2 separate regions of the Homo sapiens genome follow, and region 2 is linked to region 1. Evidence: fine-mapped expression QTL. Tissue or cell type: whole blood. Region 1 holds a variant in brackets; the other region holds the start of a gene. Each region is shown on its reference strand, or each on the opposite one.

Evidence for each region. PIP is the estimated chance that this variant, and not a neighbour inherited with it, causes the effect.
Region 2: TNFSF4 starts here. The variant in region 1 is the best candidate, but not a certain one, in a credible set for the expression of TNFSF4 in whole blood (TOPMed, PIP 0.77).

The regions. Positions count from the first base shown.
Region 1 is chr17:35,555,254-35,560,787 of GRCh38, forward strand. It overlaps SLFN14 (schlafen family member 14), which reads right to left. Exons shown (of 6, transcript NM_001129820.2): 1 at 5,514-5,534; 2 at 4,474-4,552; 3 at 1,750-2,853. The coding sequence starts at 2,809. It overlaps LOC107985033 (a long non-coding RNA gene), which reads left to right. Exons shown (of 2, transcript NR_138032.1): 2 at 1-296. Among named protein-coding and RNA genes, the nearest start is that of SLFN14, 2.8 kb to the right of the region's middle. The variant T/C (reference allele first, on the strand shown) is at 2,532.
Region 2 is chr1:173,205,446-173,210,445 of GRCh38, forward strand. It overlaps TNFSF4 (TNF superfamily member 4), which reads right to left and starts at 1,886. Exons shown (of 3, transcript NM_003326.5): 1 at 1,579-1,886. The coding sequence starts at 1,731. RefSeq lists an enhancer at 1,818-1,877.

The DNA of each region.
Region 1 (5,534 bases):
CCCACCTATTCGGGAGGCTGAGGCAGGAGAATGGGGTGAACCCAGGAGACGGAGCTTGCAGTGAGCCGAGATAGCGCCACTGCACTCCAGCCTGGGTGACAGAGCGAGACTCCGTCTCAAAAAAAAAAAAAAATACAAAAAAATACAAAAATTAGCTGGGCGTGGTGGTGTGCCTGTAATCCCAGCTGCTCGGGAGGCTGAGGTGGGAGAATTGCTTGAACCTGGGAGGCGGAGGCTGCAGTGAGCTGAGATCGTGCCGCTGCACTCCAGCCTAGGCGACAAAGCAAGACCCTGTCTCAAAAAAAAAAAAAAATGTTGTTACAGTTGTTTATGTCCCCATCTAAGGTTAGATGGAATCAAAAGTGGCAGGATCTTTAGGGGAGAGGAGAAGAGAAGTGAACTCAAACAAATTAAGAGAAAGAATGACCCAATAAAATTCTCCAATCACTCAAGTTTTGATGAAATCTGGAACATACTGGCCGTGAAGGCAAGCAGATAGGCGTAGTTCGGCCTATAGTCCTTTATGGATTGATTAGGAATCACCAAGGCTGATTCCAATCAAAACTGAAAGGTAAGTGAGAACACCAGGGGTCCTGCTCCCCCCAGCACCCCCTTGCCCTAGCATCTCCTTTTGCATCATTTTCCCCCACTTGGTGGTGCCCTAAGCCCAGTGGCTTAAGGTTATTAGCTCCTAATGTTACTGAAACAATTCAAATTTGTCAACAATGTTTTGCTTGAAAGAATTAGTGGAGTAGTGGAGTCATTTATTTTTATTTTTTTATTTTTATTTATTTATTTTTTTGAGACGGGGTCTCGCTCTGTTGCTTAGGCTGGAGTGCAGTGGAGTGATCTTGGCTGACTACAACCTCCACCTCCCAGGCTCAAGCAATCCTCCCACCTCAGCCTCCCATGTAGCTGGGACTACAGGCATACACCACCACGCCTGGCTAATTTTTATATTTGGGGGAGAGATAGGGCTTCGCTATTTTGGCCAGGCTGGTCTCAAACTCCTGGGCTTAGGCAATCTGCCCACCTTGGCCTCCCAAAGTGCTAGGACTGCGCCCAGCCTCAGAGTTATTCTTAAACAGTGTTTCTCTAGAATATCATCTCTAAAATGAGGCTATTCCAATTTTGACTGGGATGATCAGCCTGCACAATTTTTTCAACAGGTTTATAGACAATAAAAGGAGACCTTTCCTAACTCATTGCTGATGGCATACTGTAACTTTCCTTTAAAAGTTGCTTAGGCTGGCCAGGAGTGGTGGCTCACACCTGTAATCCCAGCAGTTTGGGAGGTGGAGGTGAGTTGATCACTTGAGGTTAGAAGTTCAAGACCAGCCTGGGCAACATGGCAAAACCCCATCTCTATTAAAAATACAAAAATTAGCCGACATGGTGGTGTGTGCCTGTAATCCCAGCTACTTGGGAGGCTGAAGCACGAGAATCACTTGCACCTGGGAGGTGGAGTTTGCAGTGAGCCGAGGTCACACCACTGCACTCCAGCCTGGGTGACAGAGTCTAAAGAAAAAAAAGTTGTTTAGGCCATAGAATCCAAACATTTCTTGACCTCAGTTTATATTCTGAGTCTTTGGAACTAAAAATGTTAGATAAGGAACACTGTAATGGGAGAACACTTATAAGAAAAATAAATTTCTATTTTTTAACTAACATATGTGATCAAATACCCACAAAAGGCAGAGAAAGGGGTTCCTCCCTGCTGATGGGGACAATGACTTCACTTCCCTTTACCTGACTGAGTATCCAGCATCATGACCACCCACTGCTCAGCTGTCAGCCGTGTGACAGAATTGTCTTTCATGATCCAGGAATCTGGGGCCTCTGCAAACACCACGCAACAGAAGGGCTCCACTTGAATCACACAGACATAACCATCCAGGACATCTTTTTGGTACACATTCAGGATTTTTGTAGTGAAATTTACCTTTGGCTTCTCACAGCAGAAGTGGAATGTAGGCAATTTTTCTATGCAGTTTTCGATTTCTTTTTTTAGTAAGTCAGGATTCACTTTTTCCCACTTACATCCAACCACTTCTTTGCTCTTATCATCCACCCCAATGAGGACATATCCCCCTTGAGTGTTGGCAAATGCAGAAACATAATGAGGCAGCATTTCCTTAATCCGAGGTATGACTTTTTTGGTGGTGAACCTTTTAAATTCAACATGTGTTGACTCAGTAAAGTTGAGTTTCTCCTTATACATGAGTTTGTCCTTTTTAAAAAATTCTGAGGCCAATATCCTCATATCTTCCTCTTCCTGAATGCATCTATTGAGAACCTGCTGAGGATGCAACTTCTTCACCCTTGGTCTTCCTCTTTGGGCTCTAAACCCCTTCTCTCTGAGAAGCTCCAGGGCACTGCTAGCACTCAAGTTGATAGCAGAAGTCACATCTCTCCGATACAAATTGGAGCGCAAGCTGCAAATCCTTAGTGGAAGGCTGAAAACATCTGGGCTCCATGACTTCACAAAAATCAGGAGATTGTGCCCCTGCTGCATGTAGTCAAGGTATTTC[T/C]GTGAACCTGAAGGAAGGAGCTTTTGAAAAGAAGTTTCCAAATCCTGTCCCAGCCCATGGCATTGGTAACTATAGGTTTTATCATCAATCTCTGCTTTGATCACACCACCTCCAGAATTTAACAGTGCACATATAGCCCGGATAATTCTAGAATTCTCAGATCTTTTCAAACAGCTGTTGGTCATCTTCTTCCTGTTTTCTTCTCCAAAAATCACTCTGCCCACATCTACTATTACCTCAGGATACGGCATTTCAGTATCAGTCTTGAGACTCTCCATTTCAGCAGCCCCTCTGTGCTCCAAACAATAAAAGAAAGGAGTTCCTATAATCAGGACAGAAATATTGTTTCTATATTAATAAGAATTCCAAAGATTACAATATTTTCTTCAAAACTATCAATTACTGGAGATATATTTTAATGTTGGAAGTCATCTCTCTCTATATGTATATTTGTTGTTGTTGTTTGTTTTGGGTTTTTTAGTTTTGTTTGTTTGTTTTTGAGATAGAATCTTGCTCTGTTATGCAGGTTGGAGTGCAGTGGCACAATAATAGTTCTCTGCAACCTCAACCTCCCAGTTCAAGTGATTCTCCAACTTCAGTCTCCCTAGTAGATGAGACTACAGACACGTGCCACCAAGCCTGGCTAATTTTTTTTTTCTTTTTTGTTCTTGCTATTTTTTTTTTTTAAGAGATGGAGTCTTGCTACGTTGCAATCCTCCTGCCTGGGCCTCCCTCCCAAAGTGCTGGGATTACAGATGTGAGCCACCGCACCCAACTGGAAATTATCTTTGATACTGCTGTTTTCTAATCACTTTGCCAAATATCCTTAGCCTTGCCAGAATAAGTAGGCATGGATAAAGGTGAATGCCTAATATTTGTCATAATGGAAAAATTAAATTGCTAACATTTTCAGCCATTTTGCATTTCAAATCAGGAAACGCCAACACTGAGCCCAGATATAAAGGGCATGGGTTGGCACAGGAGCCCAGGAAGGTATTGGAGAATATGCAGAAATAGAAGTTGAAGTGAGAAGATGCTCTTATTTATAATTCAAAAGGGGAAGAAAGGAAGGCACTAGAGAACTAAGGAAGTATAATTTTACAGTATATGTACTGTAGAAGATCTTGCTATAAACACAAACATAGGCTGGGTGTGGTAGCTCACATGTGTAATCTCAGCACTTTGGGAGGTGGATGTGAGAGGATTGCTTTCGATCAGGAGTTGAGACCAGCGTGGACAACATAGCAAGACCCCATCTCGACAAAAGATAAAAAAAAAAAAAATGTTAAACATTAGGCAGGTATGGTGGTGCGCACCTGCAGTCCCAGCTACCTAGGAGGCTGAGGTGGGAGGATCTCTTGAGCCCAGGAGTTTGAGGCTGCAGTGAACCATGATCGCACCACTGCACTCCAGCCTGGGCAGCAGAGTGGGAACCTGTCTAAAAAAATAAAAATAAAAGTAAATAAATAAAATTCTATATTTTTATGTATTATTTCATACACTTTGAAAAGCTTTATTTTACTCCTGAAAGAATGTCAGTTGATACCAAATGCAGAAACCTTTTCAACTCTTCACATGTTCTAAATCTCAAAAGTACATTGCCTCATATACAGTGTGATGTGACAGCAGCATTTTCCTTCCCTTCTAATAGTTCTGCCCTGTGCTGTGGAAACCCCTAAGACTTGGAAAAGAACATGAGCTTTTGGGGCATGGTAACTAAACCATTGTCACCCTTCTTTTGCTTCCTAGACCAGAAAACAGCCACCTAAACTGAAATTTGAGCTCTGAAACAAATATTTCAGAAAAGATCTGCTTACCTTTAGTCAATTGCAAAACAAAATATTTGCTAACTCAACCAAAATTCTTCCTCTAGGAGAAGAGAACCCATCTTTCTGTGTGATCTTTGCAAAGCAGGGGCCCTGTGGGCATTGTATATACTCACCAAGAGGAAGAAAGCAGGCATCCGGCAAGACATGTGCACTCCCCTGATATCAATTTGTTCTTGGTTGCCTTCTCACTTCCTTCAGGAAAACCAGAATCAACCTGGGGAATTCTTTTTAGAATGTGAGCCTCTTCTATAGGTACATGTAAATGTAGTATTTTATGGCTCCTTAGGGAAATTTCCCATAACATTCTATTTATATCATAGAATCACAGAAGTGTTGGAAAGGACTTTAAAGATCCTCCAGTCCAACAATCTATAGGATTCTAAAATCTCCTCTATAATATTGCCAACTCCCAACAAGTTGCAAACCTCCAGCAATGAGCAACTCACTACCTATCAAATAGTCCCTCTAGTCCCTTCTAATTTCTGACGTCTGTGTTAGAAATGGTCTCCTTACTTTAAGCTGCAATTTGTCTCCCCATAACTTCCACTGATGGGACCCACAAAACAAATCTAATTGATTTTGAATAGCAAACCCTATGGTCTCGTGACTCGTAAGTCTCATCAATGTTATTTGAATGCTGATAACAATTATGATAAATACAACATTTACTGAGATTCTAGCTCGAGATGAATATCCTTTCCACATTTCCCAGGACTTTTTTTTCTTTTTTTGAGACAGAGTTTTGCTCTGTGCCCAGGCTGGAGTGCAGTGGCACGATCTCTTGGCTCATGGCAACCTCCGTCCCCCAGGTTCAAGTGACTCTCCTGCCTCAGCCTCCAGAGTAGCTGGGACTGCAGGCAAGAGCCACCACTCTCGATACATTTTTGTATTTTTAGTAGAGATGGGGTTTCACCATGTTGGCCAGGCTGGTCTCGAACTGTTGACCTCAGGTGATCCACCTACCTGAGCCTCCCAAAGTGCTGGGATTATAGGGACGGGCCACCACGCCAGGCCTTCCCAGAATTTTTTATTCATTTTCCTTTACAAATTTTCCCTAAATACTATTTTACTAATCCCTCATGCCCTCAGATGTAGACTGCACCTAAAATTAGATAAATGAGATATTTTTAAGAATTTTTTTTTTTTTTTTTACCTATGCTCCTGTGTTTCCTCT
Region 2 (5,000 bases), not on the chromosome of region 1:
TGTGACCCCAACCACCAGCAAGCTGTACAACTGTGGTTCACCTTTTGCTCTCTCCTGCTCAGAGCCGTTGTGCAATCAGTTAGCCTTGAATGGAGCCATGTGTCCTGTGTTTTATCATCCCATGGTGTAAGGAAATATGTAACACTGTGGTTGTTAGAAAAAGCACTCTCAGGGCTCCCAGACTGGTGAATGCACTCAGCTGTTCTATATTTGGTTACTCTCTTTGTTTTCTTCTCAAAAGAGCCTAATTCCGGTTGATGTCTTGGGCATCCGGTCGATGTCTTGGGCATCCTGCCATGGACACCTTACTCTTCCCCCACACCCTCTCCCCGAGTCGCCTACTTTAATTTCACCCAAAGAGTTCTGCGAGAAGACATAAGAGTGTGGTGTGATGAGGAGAGGATCAATGTGTTGTTGTGCTCACTGTTCTGCAGACCTGAGCATGACACTAGCTACACTTCTGGAATTTGGAGACACAAGCACTGTCTGTGGTACAGTGATCATAACCACACACACTCTTACCAGCCTCCATGCACTGAAAACCCTATTTCCTGTAGGCAGAAACAAGCCCAGGCATTTGCCAAGACTGCTCATCTCATTCTGGTTTCATTGGAGGTGCTTAATCTCAGACAAGACCATCAGAAATCAGTTTGTATTACCTGAACTTTATCAGGGAGAAACATTTCTAACCCAAAGCAACCACCTAGAAAACAAGATTATCAGACTAGCTCAACAAAGGAACACGAAGAGAGTATAGATTTATTTTTCTCCAGTGGCATCTTCTGCAGTGAAGAACATCCTTAAATACCTAATAATGTTTGTATATCTGAACTACTGAATAAGAAAAAATAATGCAAAAGAGAGAAGTGTGGAACAAGAATAAAGTGAAAGAAAAATGGAAATATTTTAACTATATGGGGAAAATACTAGAAGGATAATCTCCTACTACATGATGTATTTAATAAGGTAGGGAAAAGGTGAAATGATGTCTTTAAATTATGACTGGAAGAGATAGATTGTGAGAAACAATATCTGATTAAATCATTGGGGTGAATGAGTGAGCACATAGGCACACACACATGCACGCACACATTGCTCCGCTATTAATATTGATACCTTCAGCATTCTTTACAAAGAAAATCACCTTGCAGGTCTATAGGGTATATGAATATTATGGGAAAGTGGAACTGGTCTCTTTCCTATTTCCTTTTAATATTAATTGCCTGATCAAACACATTACTATCACAATGGGTAGACCAGGTATATCAGTGACTCAAAGCTTCAAAGTGACAGCTTATAAAGGGATACAAGGAATCTTGCATTGCAAAGAAAAAGAAAAAGATCTAGAAGCTGTGCCTCTGCCCTACCTCCACTCTGCCCTACCACTGCCACTGCTGAAAAGAAGGAAGGAAAGGAGAGACAGAAGGGCGTTTAACCACACTTTACGATTGCTGTGGGGAGAGGGAAAAAAAACTCAACACTTTTGGCATAAGATTATTTCCAAGCGACTGTTTGCAGCTGTTGCAGCTGCCATCAGCATGAGCTGGTGGGAAAACAGCGCCCAGTGGTGCATCTTACCTGAAGAGCAGAGAAGTGCAGGCAGATGTAGGTGAAGCACAGGAGCAGCCCCAGTCCCTGAATTACAGAGGCCACCAGCAATAGCTTGTTCCTCTCGAATCTTGGCCTGGCTGCATTTCCCACATTCTCTTCCAGGGGTTGGACCCTTTCCATCTTCACAATCTGGGTAGAGGGAAGATGAAGATATGGAAAAGGGGAACGTGCGATAAAACTGAAGTTTTCCCCAGAAAGAAGGAGGTAAAGACAAAACAAAGCCTATCAATCAGAAAATAGGCAAAGGTCCCAGGGCCAGAGATAAAAGGCGATTGAAAGAGCAAAGCGGACTCTCTCAGTTTTAACGCTGCAACTTTTGCAGGCAGGCGGGGGAACTTCTTTGTGACTAATCTGAATTTCCCCTTTACTTTCTTTCTTTTTTTTTTTCCTCTGGGCTAACAGGGAGTTGTTTTTGTGACATTCCAGTTCTGATTTGAGTGACTGTGAAATGACAGTCATAAAAGTATGCTATTTTCTTAACTTATTGCACCAGTAACAAATTGTGGGTCACTTGGTAAAGATAAAAATCATCATCCGTTAATGTAGCAGCTCATATATCCCTTCCCCAAGGTGTCTTAAATCATAGAAAAGATTTAGGGGAAATGCTGGCCCAAGGTTCTTATCTGCACTTTACTATGTAACTAAACATTGAACCCCTCTCACAGATTCAGAAAGAAAGCACACACAGATCATTCTTGAATGAAAAAGACAAAACAAGAAAATAGGACACTGGGTCATGCAGAAGTAAAGGAGAGATCCTTGGTTGTAGTCTATTGCATAAAAATAAACTACCTTTTGGAAGCATTTACTATGTGTCAGACACTGTGTTAGATGGACTTGCAATCTTTCTCTCATTTAACCCTTTGAGGCAAATTCAATAAACAATTATATGATTAATTTTCTGCATACCAGAAAAGAAGCAGAAGGGTATCCTTGTCTCCTTTCCTTCCACTTCACATTTTTCCCGTACATAATTTTTCCATGAATGAACAAATGAATAGATGTAAATAAGCTTTGAAGATTATTTCTTTCTTTGAGGTCGTGGCTGGCCTCAGAACTTGGAAAGTAAGAGTATTCTATCAATAGACACCAGGTACCCTTTACCACTAAAATAAACAATGAAATGAAATAAATGATAAAATTACTTATAATGTAAAGTTCAAATGGGCAAATATTTACTGAGTACATCACATGAGCCTGGCACTGTACTGGACAACATAAGGATGCTGGGGAAAAGCTGTTTAAGACGGAATTGTCTCTCTTTGTGGCCAAGTATGTCTCTCTCAGCTCCCCATGAGGCACCCAGCAGATATGTAAAGAAAGGAGGGAGAAATATTTTGGATATTGACAGTATGAGTTGTTATACCACTTCACAGAAAAAATGGAAATGAGGCATACTTAAAAGAGAAAGTTTGTGGGAAATGTAAAGTACATTTATGACTACAGTATTAATCAATTAAAATATGAATTAATACCTTCACTACAATAATTATGCCTTGCATTAGGAGAACATACTGGTGTTGAGAAATTTAAGTTTTATCTGAAAGATAAGGTAACTAAGGCACAATATCATAGACTCCAAGCCAAAACTAGAAATCAAATTGTATCCAAACATATTTGTCATAGTTATTCCCTTGAACAAAGCTTGTGTTACATACAGGGTGTGGAGAAAAAAGCTGAAGGAAAAATCAGTGTGTAAAGCCCAATTCTTGTGTAATAGTTCTTCATAAAAGAGTATTAAAATCAGTAACTATTTACTCGTCAATTTTCAAAAAATGACTAAGAGTCACAGCAAAAAAAAAAAAAGCCATAAATACTATTGGAAACTAGAAATAAGCTGAAAAAGTAGTAAAAACTATTCATGCTGAAAATCGTAGATAACATTTTTAAATTACTGTCAAAAGAATGAAAAAAATAAACATTTACCATGCACATACTTGTACCTTAAGCAGCATTTCTTCTCAGTGTTAATATCATGGCTCCGAGAAAGAAAAATCTTTGCACAGAGTCATCTCTACCCACATTTAGGCTAACACTTGGATGACACACCTCTCATTTTTATTGTCTTGTCGTCCTACTACCATATTTTGCCTAGTTGTAATTTTTGTTGATGTTTAAGTGATATTTTACACTTAATTGTCTCTTTTTTTATTGAACACGTTTTCACAGCTCTTCACATTCTTTGTGGGAAGAGATACACACACACCAGGCTGGAAGTTTCAGGCACAGATTTCTGATAGACTATCTAGGCATTCCAAAGTTCATCACTGGGCTAGTCTAGCATTTGAACAAATGAAATCACTATTAGAGTTATCATTGCTGACCTTTCAGTCTCAGGCACATAAGCAGAGTCCTCCATCTTCAAAACGTTTTTCAAAAAATAAAGCTTAATTGTTTTTAAAGGGGTCAAATACGTTACTAAATCTATGGGCAATTTTTTTCATTTGCATTTATTTATTTATTTTAGAGACAGGGTCTCACTCTGTTGCCCAGGCTGGAGTAGAGTAGCACAATCATAGCTCACTGTAATCCGGAACTCCTGGGCTTGAGCGATCCTCCTGCCTCAGCCTCCCAAGTAGCTAGGACTATAGACACGCAACACCAGGTCTGGCTAATTTCTTTTAAAATTTCTTGTAGAGACTCCCTATGTTTCCCAGGCTGGTCACAAATGCCTAGCCTCAAGCAATCCTCCTGCCTTGGCCTCCCAAAGCACTGGGTTTATAGGCATCAGCCACCAAGCCTGGTGGCAATTTTTCTTAAAGTATCTCACAAATATTAAATACATAAGCACACCAGAGCAAATCAGCCTTAAAATAAAGCCACAGGATGTAAAATAAACCAAAGTAATTATCTTCCCATAGACTATTAACCTCCTAAATGAATAGCCATTTCAAGACTACAGAAAATATGGAAAAGAAAAGGGCTTTGACCACTCACAAGATACCTCATGTTCAGAAAGAAGCAAAAAACATTTGGGTTTTTTTTTTTTCTTTGGTTTGAGGGTTTTGTTGTTGTTTGGATTTTTTGGTGTCTGGGTTTTGGTTTTGGGGTTTTTTGGTGATAAAAAAAATCTACATTTTTCATTTATCTCTAAGTCAGATTTTCATTTGTCCATTCAACAAGACTGAGCCAAATACTAGAGGAAAAGACACAAACAAAACACATTTTTAGTCCTCAGGGAGGTCACAGACAGGAAAGCGGAATCTCCACAACCTGGAAAGTTCTGGGTCCTAGGTATCAGTGCAGAAGGGAAGGGTGCAGGGGGACAGGTGCTAATCTACACTGGAATTAGGACAGGAACAGCTTCCTTGATCTGGGAGAAACGAGAAGCAGTCTGGCCATCTGGGGCACTGGGGAGGGGCAGTGCCTGTTGGGCCAGGAGTGAGGGC